2 separate regions of the Homo sapiens genome follow, and region 1 is linked to region 2. Evidence: fine-mapped expression QTL. Tissue or cell type: whole blood. Region 2 holds a variant in brackets; the other region holds the start of a gene. All regions are shown on one strand. Distances are between the middles of the regions.

Region 1 (8,451 bases), 98 kb before region 2:
CCCAGGTACATGACTTCTCAGTGGTTTTTGTCCCCAAGGCAGATAGCTACTCTCAGGGGTGTAAAGACTCTGGGCAGCTCTAATCTTCTGATTTTCATATGTATTAAATATCACAGTTTGAAAGCTTTAGAAACATTGATAAGGTTCATATTATTGTAGTTATCTTTGCCAAATAGACCTGAAGAGCTATCATGCCAGTGTCATCCAGCCTTGCTATTCCTCTGGCCTCCATAGACTTGGCTACAGTGGACTGAATGGTGGTCTCTAAAAAGATATGTCCATGACCTAACCTCTGGTACCTGTGAATTTGACTTTACTTGGAAAAAGGATCTTCGAAGATGCAATTAAAGTAAGGATCTCCAGGGGAGATCATCCTGGATGAACTGGGTGGATGCAAAATCCAATGACAAATGTCCTTATAAGAAGAGGGGAATACCAATGCCAACAGTAGAGAAGAAACATAGGGAAGATGTGAAAATGGATGCAGAGATTGGAGTTATGTAGCTATAAGCTAAAGACAATCAAGGATTGCCTGTGGCCATTAAAAGCTAGAAGAGGGCTGGGCATGGTGGCCCACGCCTGTAATCCCAGCACTTTGGGAGGCTGAGGCAGGCGGATCACCTGAGGTCAGGAGTCCAAGACGAGCCTGGCTAACATGGTGAAACCCCGTCTCTGCAAAAATGCAAAAATTAGCAGGGTGTGGTGGCATGTGCCTGTAATCCGTGCTACTTGGGAGGCTGAGGCAGGAGAATCGCTCGAACCCAGGAGGCAGAGGTTGCAGTGAGCAGAGATCGCGCCATTGCACTCCAGCCTGGGTGACAGAGTGAGACTCTGTCTCAAAAAAGAAAAAAAAAGCTAGAAGAGACAAAAGAGGGTTCTCCCCTGAGTCTTTACAGGAAGTGATACCCTGCCAACACTTTGACTTCAGACTTCTGGCTTCCAGAATTGTGAGAGAATAAATTCCTTCTGGTGTAGGTCACCAAATTTGTGGTAATTTTTAATGGCAACCCTAAAAAAACTAACCCACCAGCATATAAAAACATGGAGTATGATGATGGTAACTACTGTCCACTTCTTCTGCCCAGGTGTCAGCCAGCCTGGCCCTAAAGAGATGTGAAAACTAGATCTCACTTGAAACCTTGCAGCCACATCCTTCTCCCTGCATCTCTTGGTCTTCCCTCAAAATACAAACTTCTGCATTTAGTCTTTCCCAAACTTTAATCCCTAGAAGGTAAATACTGATTCTTGCTTCACCCATGCAAGAATTTCTACTTTCTTCCACACAGCATTGGTTATATAATTTGCTGGGCTCAATGAAAGATGAAAATGCAAGTCCCCTTGGTAAAAAAAAAAATAATAATAATAAATAAATAAATAAAATAAAATAAAATAAAATATTTCAATGCAGGGACAGGGGAGCATTAAACATTGCACAGGGCCTTCTTAAAAGTAGATCCTGAGCAAGGCATGTGGCTTATGCCTGAAATCCAAACACTGTGGAAGGCCAAGACGGGTGGATCGCTTGAGCCCAGGAGTTCGAGGCCAGCCTGGCCAACATAGCAAAACCCCGTCTCTACAAAAAAACAAAACAAAACAAAACAAAACAAAAAAACAAAACAAAAAAACCCACAAAAGTTAGCCAGGTGTGGTGATGTGTGCCCGTAGTCTCAGCTACTCTGGAGGCTAAGGTGGGAAGATTGCTTGAGCCTGGGGGGCCAAGTCTGGAGTGAGCCGAGATTGGGCCACTGCACTCCAGCCTGGGTGAGAGAGTCAGACTCTGTCTCAAAAACAAACAACACGTAGATCCCTGCTCAACTGAACAGGTCATAGACCCACGAAGCCAGCCCTACCTCCCACCTCTTAACTACTCTGACCTTGGAGAATCCTCATTTAATATTGAAAAATACCACCAACCTCATAAACTATTTACACAATGCTTTCTCCATTTTCTGGCCTTAAGTGGAAATAAGCTTTCTTCTAAGAATTATTTCCCCTAGATGTCCCTTTGATATAGACTGTTCATTGTTTCACATTCTAGGGTCACAGGGGCAGTGTTGGGATCCTTGTAACTCCCCAGTATTACTTCTGAAGTCTTAATTGTCTCTTTTACCAGTCCTTGATCCACTTACGTTTTTCCTCCCTGGATATGCACCTTCTGCCCCAACTTTGCATAGTCATCCTCTCAGTTCTGGATCAGTCCACTACATTCACGGAAGTGTTTGTTATCAAACTCACTCCTTTTTTCATTCTGGTATTACTGTTGGTGGCTTCAATGTCCATATAGTTTCTTCAATACCTTAGTCCCTAATGTCTTGATCTTCGTTCTACGTCAGCCAACCCCACCCTTAGCTCTTCCATAAACTGTCTATCTTTGTACTTCTAAAACTTCAAAGAAAACGATCCCATTTCCTGACTACAACTTATCTCTCTCATTTGATGTGGATTTGTAGTTCTTGGACTCTTCCTTCTTCTCCCCTCTTTGTCCTCACTTATTTTCCTATTTATTCTTGTTAACCTTAAAACCTTGTCTTAAAAATAGTATCCAAGCTTGCTCCTTGTCTTTTCATCACATCACTTGGCACAATCCCAAAGTTGGATTAAACTTTCTGCATTTAAAGGCATATATTTGACACAAATTCACAATTCACATGATTGTGTGGAATTACTGCTACCACCAATTCTTGGACTCAAAAACTCCTCCTTGCACTTATGGTCAGGTCGTGTCTAACATTTGCAAAAGCAGCTACTGCAAACCTTTCCGCATCTTCTCCTTACTTTCCTAGTAGAAATGAGAGGCCATCAAAAATCTTAAATCTAAATAGACAAAAGCATTCTATAAATAGTGTTCTTATAAGTCATTATTTGGTCTTAAGTGTGGAAACAAAGTTAATACTTATTCATTTCAAAACGGCCTGTAGAGTACCTACTTTGTGAAGGTACTATTCTAGGTGTTGAGGATATGGCCTTCATGGGCCATACATTCCAGTGGTTCTGATGATTTCATATGTAGGTTAAAAGCTTAGCAGTGAGGTCTAGTGGTTTTCTCACATTGATCCCAAAATACAGATTTTACAAAGCAAAATTTTCAAGTATAGGAAATACACTTGCAGGATCATAAAAATCCAATCATGATACCATAATTCATAAGTTCAAACATTTTAGTATCACTCTCTGTCATAGTACCTCTAAAATAAATAAACCTTAGAATAATTTGCCCTAGATAATAAAAATATATGTTATTATATAATATAATAATAACAGGCCTTAGCAGTATGCCAGATAATAAGTTTTAAAGTTACACTAATGATATAAATAACTCTCAGTCTCTTTGATTAATGCTTGTGTAACCACACAAGTAACTATATTTTTATTAGGCGGGTGCAGAAGCTACTGCAGTTTTTGCCAGTACTTTTTTGCAATTACTTTTGCACTAACCTAATACAAAACAAAATGTGCCTACATCACAATTCAGAAAAATCACAGCTTTATTAGCAGAGTATAATTTAAGGAAGTCAATCAATCCTGAAGGCAGAAAGACCTAAGTTCAAAACTGATTTGGAATCTTCTCAGCTATTTAGCCTTGTTCAAAGTATCTAACCTTGCTGAACCTCAGTTTACTATCTGAAAATAGAGAAAATTATTACTATATTGTGGAGGTATGAATATTGAATAATTTAAAGAACTTGATTGTACTACCATTAGCACACACTGAATAAAATATTAGTCTGATTATATTTTCGTATTTCCATATTTAGGCTTTTGCCTAAAAAGGGAATTTGGAAGTGGTCATTGGCAGGTGTCATAGGCTTTGGGTGGCAAGTCAGAGCATAGTATGAATGAGCAAATTAGTAAAGACTAGAGATAAGAGAAGACTTTGAGTACTAATTAAGAGTTTCAGGAGACCAGAGGAGATTTTAAGACTTCAGTGAGAAACCACTTTCTCAGGAAGCAGATAAATTAATTTTATCAGCAGTATCGTCGTCCATGTAATATGGCTTTTAAAAAGCACAGTGAGACCTTAGTAGTAACGACTTTATTTTTCTTAGTGAGAACCTGAAAGTGAAACTTGATATACATTATTTTCTGCTTTTATTGCACAAAAAGTTGTTTCCATTGCATATTGCTTCCTAATCTGTTAAAATAATCTGTTAACAAACTCGAAGACCCAGATTCGGGGCGTAGATAAGCCTGTGTACCTTCCTACCTTCTCCAAACAGCCAACATTAGATCAAAGGGCAACCTTAATGACACCTGGAGCACAAACCCTGCTCAGGGCGCGTACAACCGGAGGGACAGAAAACACGATGCGACGTCGGAAAGCAGGAAGGGAATTGAAATTCCCGCAGTCACGTCACAGAAATCTTAGCAGAACCTCATCATCGCCCAAGGGAACTGGGAGTGGCGGGCGGGGAGGACGCGGGTTGTGTGACGATCACCGATAATTAGTTGGTGGTTAACGCACAAGTAGGATAAAAGAGCTCGCCCCAGGCTGCCAGCAGAAAAAAGCTACCGTGGCACGTGCCCCGGGGAGTGATGCGGTGGCCCGGTTTGCACGGAGAGCGGGACACCGCCTGGGGAGCCGCGCTCGTAGCCTGGGGGCGGGACGCGGCGGCCGCTCCCTCCGCCCCCGAGTAGCTGCCACCGCCTGGCTGCGCCCCAGCCCAGTAGCTCAGACGCGGCCGCATCCCGGTGGACTGTAGAGGCGGCAGCGAGCTAGAGCCCGAGTCGCAGCTCCGGGCCGCAGAGCGCTGGGCGAGCGCGAGCGCCAGGGCACCGGCAGGGCAGGCAGCTGCGCGCGGCTGGTACGTACCTGGTGGAGCGGGCGCGTGAGTGGGTGTCCCTATGCGAGGAGGGAGGAGTGGGACTTGGGAAGTCGGGGGAGACTGACCCAGGGAAGATGTGGTAAGTGCAACTTTCCTATTTTCTGCCCTGCTGGCACAAATATGGGGGGAGTTCGAAGCAGATGCCTCTTTCGCTTGGGCGACCCGATCCATCGTTTAACTCACAAGTCAGGGTACTTAGAGAGTGAAAAGGACGCTCACGCCAACAGGCGTGACGTGGGAGGTCTGTCACCTGCCTTTTGCCCACTCTGCCCTGCAGGTGGCCATTGATGACCTCCTGTCACAAGTCGCTGAGTCCTTCGGCTCTCGCGCCAGCAATGCCAAGTCTTTCCCCTGGGCGGTGCTTACCAAGCCCCGGGTAGTCACGAGCGGCCGCGGGGTTAGCAGAGACCCGAGTACTAACCCGCTCGGCCAGCGTCCGGCTGTGTGGCTTTAGCCAAGTCACCTCACCTCACTGGCCTCCGTCCATTCTTTGGATAAAATATGGAGGTGGGTAGACCGAGTAAACTCAAGGGTCGCCCGTAGCTATTGGATTTTCCCTGCTCCTAGGACCCCGGCAGGCCGCAGGGAGGGACACGAGTGCCAGGTGGTCGCGGGCTGAGGGAGCGGAGGGCCTGTGTTCCGGTTGGTGCTGATGCTAGCCCCTTGGGGAAATTCCTGAAGGTGCATTTCGGAGCCAAATGACCCTGCCTTGCAGCAGGTCCCTTCCAAGGGAGCTGAGAGGGCCAGGTCAGACCGGTCTTCGTAGAGCTCCCCGGGGAACGCAGCCAACGGAACTCGGGTCCTTTAGAAAAGTGCATGCGTGAACTAGGCATGTGGGAAGCACTAAAACAAACAACAAACAAACAACAAAACACCCTGCAGGTGGTAGTGTTATTAGCTGGAGTCTGTGCAGGACTGGAAAGTGGAGATTTGAGGCGAATGACCACTTAAACGTTCATCTAGAAAAAAAATTTTAAAAAAACTCTTTTATCAGTGGTTTGCATACTGAAAGGTATTGAATTAGAAATATTGCGAGTATTGCATTTCTCTTCGTGTACAGATAGATTTCAAAATTCATCTGTCCACTTTATCTCTTCACAAGATGCCTTCCTTCTTACTGACATTGCCACACATTCAAAAAAAATCCTCCTGGGATTTTATATTTAGAAAGCTCAGCATTTGGATTATTAAAATGAGAACTGATGACCATAATGCTCACGGAAAATGGGGTAGGTTATGGATCAAGTTTGGTTAAATCAGCAGTTTATAAACCTTGTTTCCTGTTAGTGTGCCGGGTGCTGGTCAATGCCCCCCTAGTGACACTATCTCAAGAGATCATTTGCTAAAAAGGTGTTTTGGAAGTTCAAAAGATTCGATTTTGAAGGAAAGTATAGCTTTGGAAAGGAAATCTTTTGGAAAACGTTTTTAGTAATGGACTTCTCAATCTTATCTTTACCACAACTTTCTTCAATAAAATATCAAAGACTAATGGACCACATTATGCAGAATATTTTAAAATGTGTCAAATTTCATTTTTGTTAAAGAGTTTTTCCTCCTTTTTAGTCGATTGCAAACATATTGTTTAGATCAATGATAGATCAATTTAATTTTCCTCACAGTTCTTACAATTATTTAAATTCTTACGCAGTTTGCATTACAGCATTTTTTTACAACTTTATTGAGATATAATTTATATATTATAAAGTTCACCCTTTAAGGGTGAATAATATTTAAAAATTATATTTCAGTGAGTTTTAGAAAATTTGTTAATTTTCTAAAAGTTGTAAAACCATTACCATATCTGGTTTTAGAACATTCCAAAATTGTAAAACCATTACCATATCTGGTTTTAGAACAGTTTACTCACTTGGTAAGATTCCTTATGTCCATTATGTCTTTGTTCCCACTCCCATTCCCAGGCAACCATTAATCTACTTTCAGTCTATAGATTTGCCTTTTCTGAACATTTTATATAAATGGAATGATATACTATATGGTCTTTTGCTTATGGCTTCTCTTACTTAGCATAATGTTTTTGGGGTTCAGCTATGTTGTGGCATGTATCAGTATTTCATTTCTTCTTATTGCTGAATAGTTTTCCATTGTATGGATATACCACATTTTGTCAATTTACTAGTGGATGGATATTTGGGTTGTTTCCAATATGGGAATATTATGAATCATGCTGCTGAGAACATTTGCATTCAAGTGTTTGTGAGTACCCGTTTTCATTTCTCTTGGGTAGATGCTTAACAGTGAAATTGGTAGGTTGTATGACAAACTTGTGTCTAACTTTTAAGGAACACTATAGAGTAATTTTTGTAGAAGTTATATATATAAAAATTTAAAAAATTCTGGAAAAATAAATGTTTCTTACTGGATCATATATGATGTTATATGTATATAGAGAGAGGCTTGGGAGAGGAACCATTGCTTCTCTTCAAATTTAGAGCTGAGGTACAGCAAACACTTTTGAAAAAAATGTCGCAATATTTCTCAGAAACGAGATATTTCTTGCCTAATGTTTTTTAATGCTAAATGAGCATGAATCAGGCTTAATCAAGACTAAATTTTCATTAATGTCAATTGAAAATGAGAAAGCATGCAGTTTGAAAATTGTATTTTAAGTGTTGAGACTTAGCCAGCTCTGAATGGCTGGACAATAAATTCGGTGGTTTTCCATTTCTTCAATGCAAAATTTTAATTGAGTTAGAAAAAACAAAATTATTCTTTCCTCAACATCAAAAATAAACTATACGTCTTGTGAACTATATGTCTTGTGATAAGCATTGTTAATCATGATTCCATATAATTATTTTAAATAATAATTAAGCATATTCTATTAGTAGATTTAGGGATCTAAGGCCCAAGAGTAAGTGATTTCCATATACAAAAATCACATATTAGACCAGGGCTCTGGTTTTCCTGTTTTAAAACTTCCCCCATTAGTACATGTTCCTCTAAATCCTGTTAGTTTCAGACATTTTCATATGTTATATGTACTTTAAAAAAGTCATTACCAGGTAGTGACATTACATGGAAATAATCTAGGTTAAGCACTTGAACATCCCCATAAAATCAAAGACAGCTACTATTTTTTATTTTTATTAGAAGTACAACTGGTTTTGGCCCTGCGTGGTGGCTCATGCCTGTAATCCCAGCACTTTGGGAGGCTGAGGTGGGCGGATCACAAGGTCAAGAGGTAGAGACCATCCTAGCCAACATGGTGAAACCCCGTCTCTCTAAAAATACAAAAATTAGCTGGGTGTGGTGGTGCACACCTGTAGTCCCAGCTATTTGGGAGGCCGAGGTAGGAGTATCGCTTGAACCCAGGAGGCAGAGGTTGCAGTGAGCTGAGATGGCACCACTGCACTCCAGCCTGGTGACAGAGTGAGACTCCATCAAAAAAAAAAAAAAAAAAAAAGAATTACAGTTGATTTTGAGAAATCAAATGGATATGCTACTTTTTACTGAACTGAGGTACACTTTTTATTCTAGCAAGTGGCAAATAGCAGTATTATGTGCCCAGAGCAGAGTGGATTTGTGTTCTTCAGTCACTCCTAGTTGTAAAAATGTGACATTGCCCAAGAGTTGGGTGCTTGGTTGGAGAAGAGAGTTCAGAGATGTT
Region 2 (8,451 bases):
GTGTGATAAGACTACTGTTTTTATTTCAATTATTAAAACATTCCTTTATTATTTTTACTATGAGAAAACATATGTAAGTATAAATGACTAAGTAATAAGATACTGTAATACAATGAACTAAACTTGAAAAAGAGCAAAGTAGATTGCCTAGAAATAAAAATATGATAATTGGAAATAAAAACAGTGTGTGGATTATGCAGCTGATTAGACACAGCTGAAGAGAGAATAGTGAACTATATACACTTATGATGCAATTCTCTGAAGAATCTAATACACTTATGATGCAGGTGCCGTTCTTATGTAGAGCGTTTTTGCCATTCTTATGTAGAGCTTTTACATATATACATACACACACATATATATACATATATGTATATATGTATATATGTAAAAGCTATATATACACACATATATATGTATATATATGTAAAAGCTCTACGTAAGAACGGCAAAAATGCTCGCTCTCTATATAAAAAACGCTATATATATATGTGTGTATATATATATATATATATAGAGAGAGAGAGAGAGAGAGAGAGAGAGAGAGAAATTGGTTCATGCAATTATGAAGGCTGAGAAGTCCTAAGGCTTTGGCAAGCTAGAGACTCAGGAGAGCTAATGATATGGTTCCAGTTTGTGTTCAAGTCTGATAACCGGGAGACCCACTATTGTCGGTTCCAGGCCAAGTCTGAGTTTAAGGCAAAAGATTGAAGACTGAAGACAGCTTGAAGACAGGCAGAGAAAGAAATTCTCCTTCTCTCTATCTTTTTATTCCATTCAGGACTTCAATGCATGGGATGTGGCCCGCCCATATTGAGAAGGGCAATGTGTTTTATGCAGTCCACTGATTCAGATGTTAATCTTTTCTGGAAACACCCTCACAGACACACCCCGAGAAATGGTTAACCAAGTATCTGAGCACTTTGTAGCCCAGTCAAGTTGGCATATAAAATTAGCCATCACAATTAGCAAACTTCTTAACAGCAAAAATAGAATAATGTGGAATAATATTGTTAGGTGCTTTCATCCTAAAATAGTGTATTTGTAAGAATGAAGATAAAAATAGATCTTTTCAGTCATCAAAAAACTATAGTTCCCAAAAGAATTTCAAAGGCTAAACTCCAGGAGAAAAGGTGAATTATCTCAGGAATTGGAACATGAAAAAAATAACATTGTGGAAATATAACGGTATGATGGATATACACAGAAGACCAATTCTTAAATACTTAGATATATGCTAAGGTATTTAGATATGCAGTGTCATGTTAATGGCAGCTTGCTTTCAGTTGGTGAAATAATAACTGTGTGTGTGTGTGTGTGTGTGTGTTTATGTTTAGAGAGATTAAATATAGCAAAGTGTTGATCATTGAATCAGGTGGAGGCTCCTTCTTGAAACCCCAGTACTTTTGGAGGCCAAGGAGGGAGGATCACTTGAGGCCAGAAGTTTAAGACCATCCTTCAACTCTACAAAAAGTTTTAAAATTAGGCAAGTGTGATGCTGCCCACCTGTAGCTCTAACTATTCGGGAGGCAGACAGGACATTGCTTTTAGCTCAAACAATTGAGGCTGCAGTGAGTTGTGATCATGTCACTGCACTCCAGTCTGGGAAACAGAGGGAGACCTTGTCTAAAAATAAAATATACCAGAAAAACACTATAGCTGAAAGCCATCTATTTAATAATCCTTAGAATTTTTGTCACAAATTATTATAAACAAGATCTATTGTTTCCATGATCAAAAATTTCTCCACCAATATCTAATTTTGTGGTGCCTTTGTGAGTCCTCCAAGATCATCATGGTTCAATGACCACATTGATAATCAAAGCCTTTTTCAGAAATCAATGGACAATAAGAGTGTATTTGTCTATTTCTAGAGTGTCTATTTTATTTTGTATTCTATTTGTCTACCCTTGAGGAATACCACACAGAATTAATAGCCATCAAGTCTGATAGTGTAAGTCCTTTACTTTTTCCTTTCTTTTTGGAATAAGAAGTTATTCTCAGTCTGTAGCATTTTCATATAAATTTTTGGAATCAGCTTATTACTCTATTGTGGTAGATTTGATTTAAAAACTTCACCTTTTAATATGCTTTAATGGTTCTCCTTGACATCTGTCTCTATTTTCAGAAAGCGCATCTTTTTTTTTTTTTTTTTTTTGAGACGGAGTCTTGCTCTGTGGCTACACTGGAGTGTAGTGGCGCAATTTCGACTCACTGCAACCTCCAGCTCCCTGGTTCAAGTGATTCTCCTGCCTTGGCCTCCTAAGTAGCTGGGATTACAGGCACATGCCACCACGCCCAGCTAATTTTTTGTATTTTTAGTAGACATGGGGTTTCACCATGTTGGCCAGGATGGTCTCGATCTCCTGACCTTGTAATCTGCCTGCCTTGGCCTCCCAAAGTGCTGGGATTACGGCATGAGCCACTGCGCCTGGCCAGAAAATGCATCTCATACACACCTTTACTATGTGATTTAGAAGTTTCATGATTCCCTGGTGCTTACAGGATACGTTCACATATTGTTCATGGCATTCATTTTCTTTCCCACTATGTTATGACTATGCTCCAACTCATTTTTCCAACTCCACGTGGGCATAACACTCCATGGCAGCGAAATGTTTCCTTTTCTCTTATTTAGAACTTGCTTTTTGCACTCCCCTCTTTTAGCTTACAGATATTTCTCTGGCTTAGTAAGCCTTTCATTCCCTTTCTACCTGTGTGGATTCCTCCCAAATTTTGAGGCTCTGTGTGTGTTCTACAGCCTTTGTGAAATATTCCTTAATCACCCCAAAATTCAGTAACCATTTATCTTTTACATTTCTATAGTAGTTTTATTTATAACACTTATTTGAATATATCATATATTTACTTCTATTTTTACATTTCCTTTAATATGCAACATATTCCATCTGTACGATGAGTTCACAACTCTTTCAGGGTGGGGACCATATATTAAGCATCTTCATGTGTCCCCACTGTTTCTATCACAATGCTTAGTCTTATTTGCCACTGTTTCCCCAGAGTCTTGCACTGAACGGAAGATATAGTAGATGCTTAACAATAATTGATTGAATGAGGACTGAGTCTGTGCTCAATAAATGTTTGCTGAGGTGTAATTTAAGGAGAAAATAATGAGTTGTGAGATGAAATGGGTTCCAGTCTTGTCTCTGTTACTTGCTAGCTAGGTTTAGCCAAACCCTTTTATTTCTATGATCGTCAGTTTCCTCACCCTTAAAATGAAGACAGTAGTGACTAATCCACAGTGTAGAATCACATGAACAAATTCTCAATAAAGTGCTTTAAAACAATGCATGCTTAACACATGCATATGCCATTTTTCATATCATAAAAATCTTCATTATAGAAAATTTGGAAAAAAGTAAAATTCAACGAAGAAAATAGAAATCATTAATAATAACATACACAAAGGGAATAACTATTATAATTTCAGTATATTTCCCTTAAAATGTTTTTCTGTGAATGTATTTTAAAACTAATATATGCATAGTGGTTTTAAAATTTTGAAAATTTATGTTTTTAAATATTTTAGATATTTTCATGGCCTCATTTTTCTATTTAACTTATATAGTACTAAAGGACTATAGTAACATAATTTTGTACAAAATGTTTTTATAAAAGTTAAATGTATCAATTTAAATAATGCTACTTCTATTAACTTAATTGCAGGTTAATATAAACATGCATAATTTGATGAAAAAATATTTCAATTAGATGATTTTTCTTTCTAAAGTTGTTTGCCCTTTGGTTGGGATTTTTTTTCCTCTATGACCCAGAAAAATTCTCAAAACTACTCTTAATTTTTGTTCCCATAATTTTGATTGAATTTTTTGCTTGCTGCAACGTTATAATGATTTCTTCTGTAAAGTACCGAAGATAACTTAGAAAACAAATCAGAGCTCAAAAAGGCTTAATCATTTCTCTCCTTTTCTTTGTTGGAAGAAAAAAATGAATATTATATTCATTTAAATATGGGCTAAGAGACATCCTAAGAGTTTTTCTTTAAATTGATGAAATAGAAGAAAAAGACACTACCGAAACTGTGGGTGCATTTAAAAAAGCATTATACCTATCTATTTTATACCCATTTTATTTATCCGATTAAAGAAACATTTATAAGTAATTTCAGTACTCAGCCATGTTCCTTGCTTTTTGGCTATGCATATTTTACATAGTTGGTATATGCTCTCTAATGTTAACATTCAAGAAAATTTTATTTTTTCAAAACTGTCATTAGAAATTTTGAATTATGTTGATTTGAGAAAGATTGCATTTTTAAGATATAATAAAATGATATCAAATAAATATCATCTAGCTTCAAACTAAATGGTGTGTAAAATATGTTGTGATATTCTTGTATATGTGCCGCTGAAAAAATTCTGGCAGGTTATGCACCAGAATTACAACAGCACTGTTACTGGATAGCGGGATGGCAATCTCTTTTTCCTTCTTTATGTCTTTTGGAATTGTCCTTTTCCCAACAACAAGCATATATTAATGTCATATGCAAAAAGAAAAAAAATTCATGTTGAAAAGTGGAAAGACAATTATTTTATTTATTGAGTGCTTGCTGAATAAGAATCAGGCATGGCTTTTGGTCCTATGAATACATCAATGAAACAACCTACAAAAACAAAAGCTCTGCTTTGTGGAGCTTACCTTCTAGTGAAGGGAGACAGACAATAAGCAACAACTGCAATCATAAGTAAATGCGAATACATTTTCAAAGCTAGTAAGTGCTAAGAGAAAGTAAGAGGAATTAGAAGCTGGAGGGATGAGATGCAATTTTAAACAAGGTGGTTAAAGCAAGCCCCACTGAGAAAGCAGGACTCTGTCAATATTATCTTTTGTGACCCTTTTTCCTATGCCATATTATCTCATTTTAATATTACTCAGATTAAGAATGCTTTTTTAGGCATCATGAAGAAATCAAGAATTTCAATCCCATTTTAACCATTGGAGAGAACACTGAAACATGGTTTGTTTCTGAAAGTATGTGAAAATTTCACCTTTAGGGAGAAATCTTCCTATGGGCAGTGTAGGGGAGATATGGTTTTCTGTGACTGGTGACTTGTATGG[T/G]TCAGATGTTGCAGAAACGTAGACAGGTTTGAGGGTGTGCTGGGAAGCAGATTGTAAATGATTTTTTGAATGCCTTTTTAAACAATATCAACTTTCTGGAAATGTCTCAGAGTTAATCTCTTTTTCTTGACATGGAGTCTTGCTCTGTTGCCCAGGCTGGAGTGTAGTAGCGTGATCTCAGGTCACTGCAACCTCCTCCTCCCGGGTTCAAGTGATTCTACTGCCTCAGCCTCCTGAGTAACTGGGATTACAGGCATGCGTCACCACGCCTGGCTAATTTTTGTATTTTTAGTAGATACTGGCCAGTAGATATTGGCCAGGCTGGTCTCAAACTCCTGACCTCAGGTGATCTGCCTGCCTCAGCCTCCCAAAACCCTGAGATTACAGGCATGAGCCATCACGCCCAGCTGCGTTAATCTCTTTCTGCCTACAGTCCAACATCAGAGGCTGTCTCTAGAGCCACGTCAACACTGTTGCTTAAAAGAATAATTGATATTCATAATGATACTCTGTCATAGTGCCTATAAATTTATATGACTGATATCTAAATAAATTCCATTTGTGTAGTTGTTAACCAAGCACATTTATAACATTAGTTCATTTGAGTCCAGGGTAGTAAAATAGATAATATAAATCCTACTTTTTAAAAATGTAGAATGCTAATCAACAAAGAAGTTAGATGTCTTTCTAGAAGTTGAAAGTCCAGGATTCAACTTCAGAAGTGTTCACTTTTAGGCGACCAAACTTCCCATTGCTCCATATAGACCGTGTAACAAACAAGAGGACTAAGGGCAGTCACTTTGAGAGTGTGTTAATGCAGTTAAGTAGTGCCCAAAGCTCTGCTTTCAAATCATCATTTAAAATAGTTTTATTTTGAATATGTGCAAATCTAAATTACCTAAGGAGGTTTTGAAAAGTAGCTGAAGTCATTCTTAGTACAAAGAGATGGGATCAAGTGGGAGTTTTTTTTTTTAATTAAAAACAGTTTACTATAAAATACGTTATATTTTAAATAGAACATGTTACCACTATTTGATGTATGAGTATAAAATGAGTTGCAATGATGGAGTCACAAAAACAGTTTCAGAAGTGGAATAAATATGTGGCTACTTAAAGTAATTGCTTTGATAGATGATACTCATTTCCATCTATAAATTTTGGTGTGTTAGTAAAAATAGTTCTATTATTTGGTATCACACTGCATTTTCCCTTTGAAAGATAAATAAGTATATATTAATTATAAATGCTTTCTGAAATGAAAGTTTAAAATTTAAAGTGTCCATGTGTATAACCATCAGATGTCCTAGATGAGGGTCGTACTGTATGAGTTTTTGCAGCAACTACTGCTCTGGCTCTACCAATCCAGGTTTACTACCCACATCTAAAAACCATTGTATTTGCCATTAGTCTACAGCCTGACTCCTATCTATTTTGATGTTAACAAAACAAAATCTATTTTAATACTGAATAACTGAACTTTCAGTCTTATTATTTATTTACTTTTGATCTTTATTATGAATATTAATAATGTAAAGGACCTTCATTTTCAGCTCATAATCGATAGGTATCAGCTATTAATTCAACATTGATTTATTGATTGTATTAAGCAGATATGTTCCAGTCTCTCTACTAGGCAGAGGGATATGAAGCCATTTCTATTGTGACCACATTGGTAAGAATTAACTTCCCCTTCTCTTCTTCCTACTGATGTCATAAACCGCCATTTGACATTTTAAAACCATATATCTCATTGAAAAGGGAACTGACTTTTTAGGCCTTGCATGTAAACCCCCAACACAGACGGCCGTGTTCCCTCTTTGTAGGGAAGAGTACAAGCAGACCACAAGAACTTCAAAATCACATTGTACACAAGAACTTCAAAATCACATTATTTTCCCACTAGGGCAAATTCAGTGCTGGGGATTTTGTGTACTTGGAGTGTATTTGTGCCCCCTTTGAAATCTAAGAATACTTTGTGTACAATAGTAGTTGGAAAAGCAACTAAATGAGAAATGGGTGGTCTGAGGGCAGCCCTTCTCTGAAATTTGCTTACTTATTTTCTGGGGTTCCATTAAATGCTGTGTTCCCTGTGAAGCCTGGCCTCATTTTCTATCCTGGAATTAAGCGCTGCCTCCACTGCTCACGTGGTAAAGGTGCTAGCACGCAGCCTTCACAGACTGCCAGTTAAGGCATGGGAAGACCTTACTTACTGTGCCAAATTCCACAGTATCTAGCGTGGGGCTTTGCAGAGTTGGTGTTACATAAATGCTTTTTGAATTGAACCCTAACTTCTTTAAGCAGGCTCCAGTACCTCAATAAAATAAGAACCAACAATATTTGAGTCACTGGTTAGAAAGAATAATGTGAAACAAATGAAAGTGAAGGAGTATAAATAGGGTTTGAGGTAAGGTGGGAAAAAAAGAATGAGAAGGGTTTCTTCAAATCCGTGCTAAATCCTCTCAATTCTGAATACTCTGAAGCTAGAAATAAAAGCTAAACTATATAAAATGTAGACAGTAGGGATGCTTTGCTATGGTTATAACCACTTATATTCATCTAAAGGAGAAGTGAAAATATCACTGTATTCTGGATAACACCCAATATACATAGCACACACACACAAACACACACACCACACAGGGACACACACACCCCACTCAAGCTAATGTATTAAAAAGGAAACCTGTTTAATTTTTAGAAAGACTTTTTCATATACAGTGAATTTTCTTTTTTATTTTTATCCCTGTAGATAGCTGGGTTTGTTTTTGTTTTTTGTTACGGAAAGCAGCAGGAGGAATCATGGTAATGGAAGAAAGAGTACCGCCTAAACTTAGGAAAGACTTTGACACAAATTAAGCTATGTTATATTGATGCATCACTTAAGTGTCTGGATCTGGAAGTCTGGACTATATCATCTTTTCAAATGTAATATCCTGCAATCATGTGAGAAATTTATTAGTCCTTTTGGGAATCTGCAAGTGGTTGGGAGAAGCCCAACTAACTCCCTGCAAACCTTTATGGAGGATACATGTTGAATAAGTCTTTCTAGTATGAAACTAAAAAGAATAAGATGACCAGTTAAATCTGACTCCCCCAAACACAGACACATACTCAAGGAGGCTACATAGTTTATTGCAGTCCATCTTTTTTATCATTAACAACATTCATGTATATTAGTATTGTAAGTGGCCTTATGTTAGTATAAGAAGTAACATTGTGCTGGAAGGGTATTCAGCTTTGTGCATTAATTTATCTGGAAAATTATGAAAAAATTAATTTGACTTTGCATTTTGAATTTTATATGTTTAAGCTGTCAAAAATTCTCTGTGGTAAAAATAACTTCCATGTGCCTAC

The links. PIP is the estimated chance that this variant, and not a neighbour inherited with it, causes the effect.
Region 1: it holds the start of PKIB, and the variant in region 2 is fine-mapped to the expression of PKIB in whole blood (INTERVAL, PIP 0.98).

The regions. Positions count from the first base shown.
Region 1 is chr6:122,605,734-122,614,184 of GRCh38, forward strand. PKIB (cAMP-dependent protein kinase inhibitor beta) reads left to right here and starts at 4,672. Exons shown (of 5, transcript NM_181795.3): 1 at 4,672-4,802. RefSeq lists a silencer at 4,523-4,702 and an enhancer at 5,319-5,964.
Region 2 is chr6:122,703,427-122,711,877 of GRCh38, forward strand. All of the region lies in intron 3 of PKIB (cAMP-dependent protein kinase inhibitor beta), which reads left to right. Among named protein-coding and RNA genes, the nearest start is that of FABP7, 72 kb to the right of the region's middle. RefSeq lists a silencer at 565-765. The variant T/G (reference allele first, on the strand shown) is at 5,098.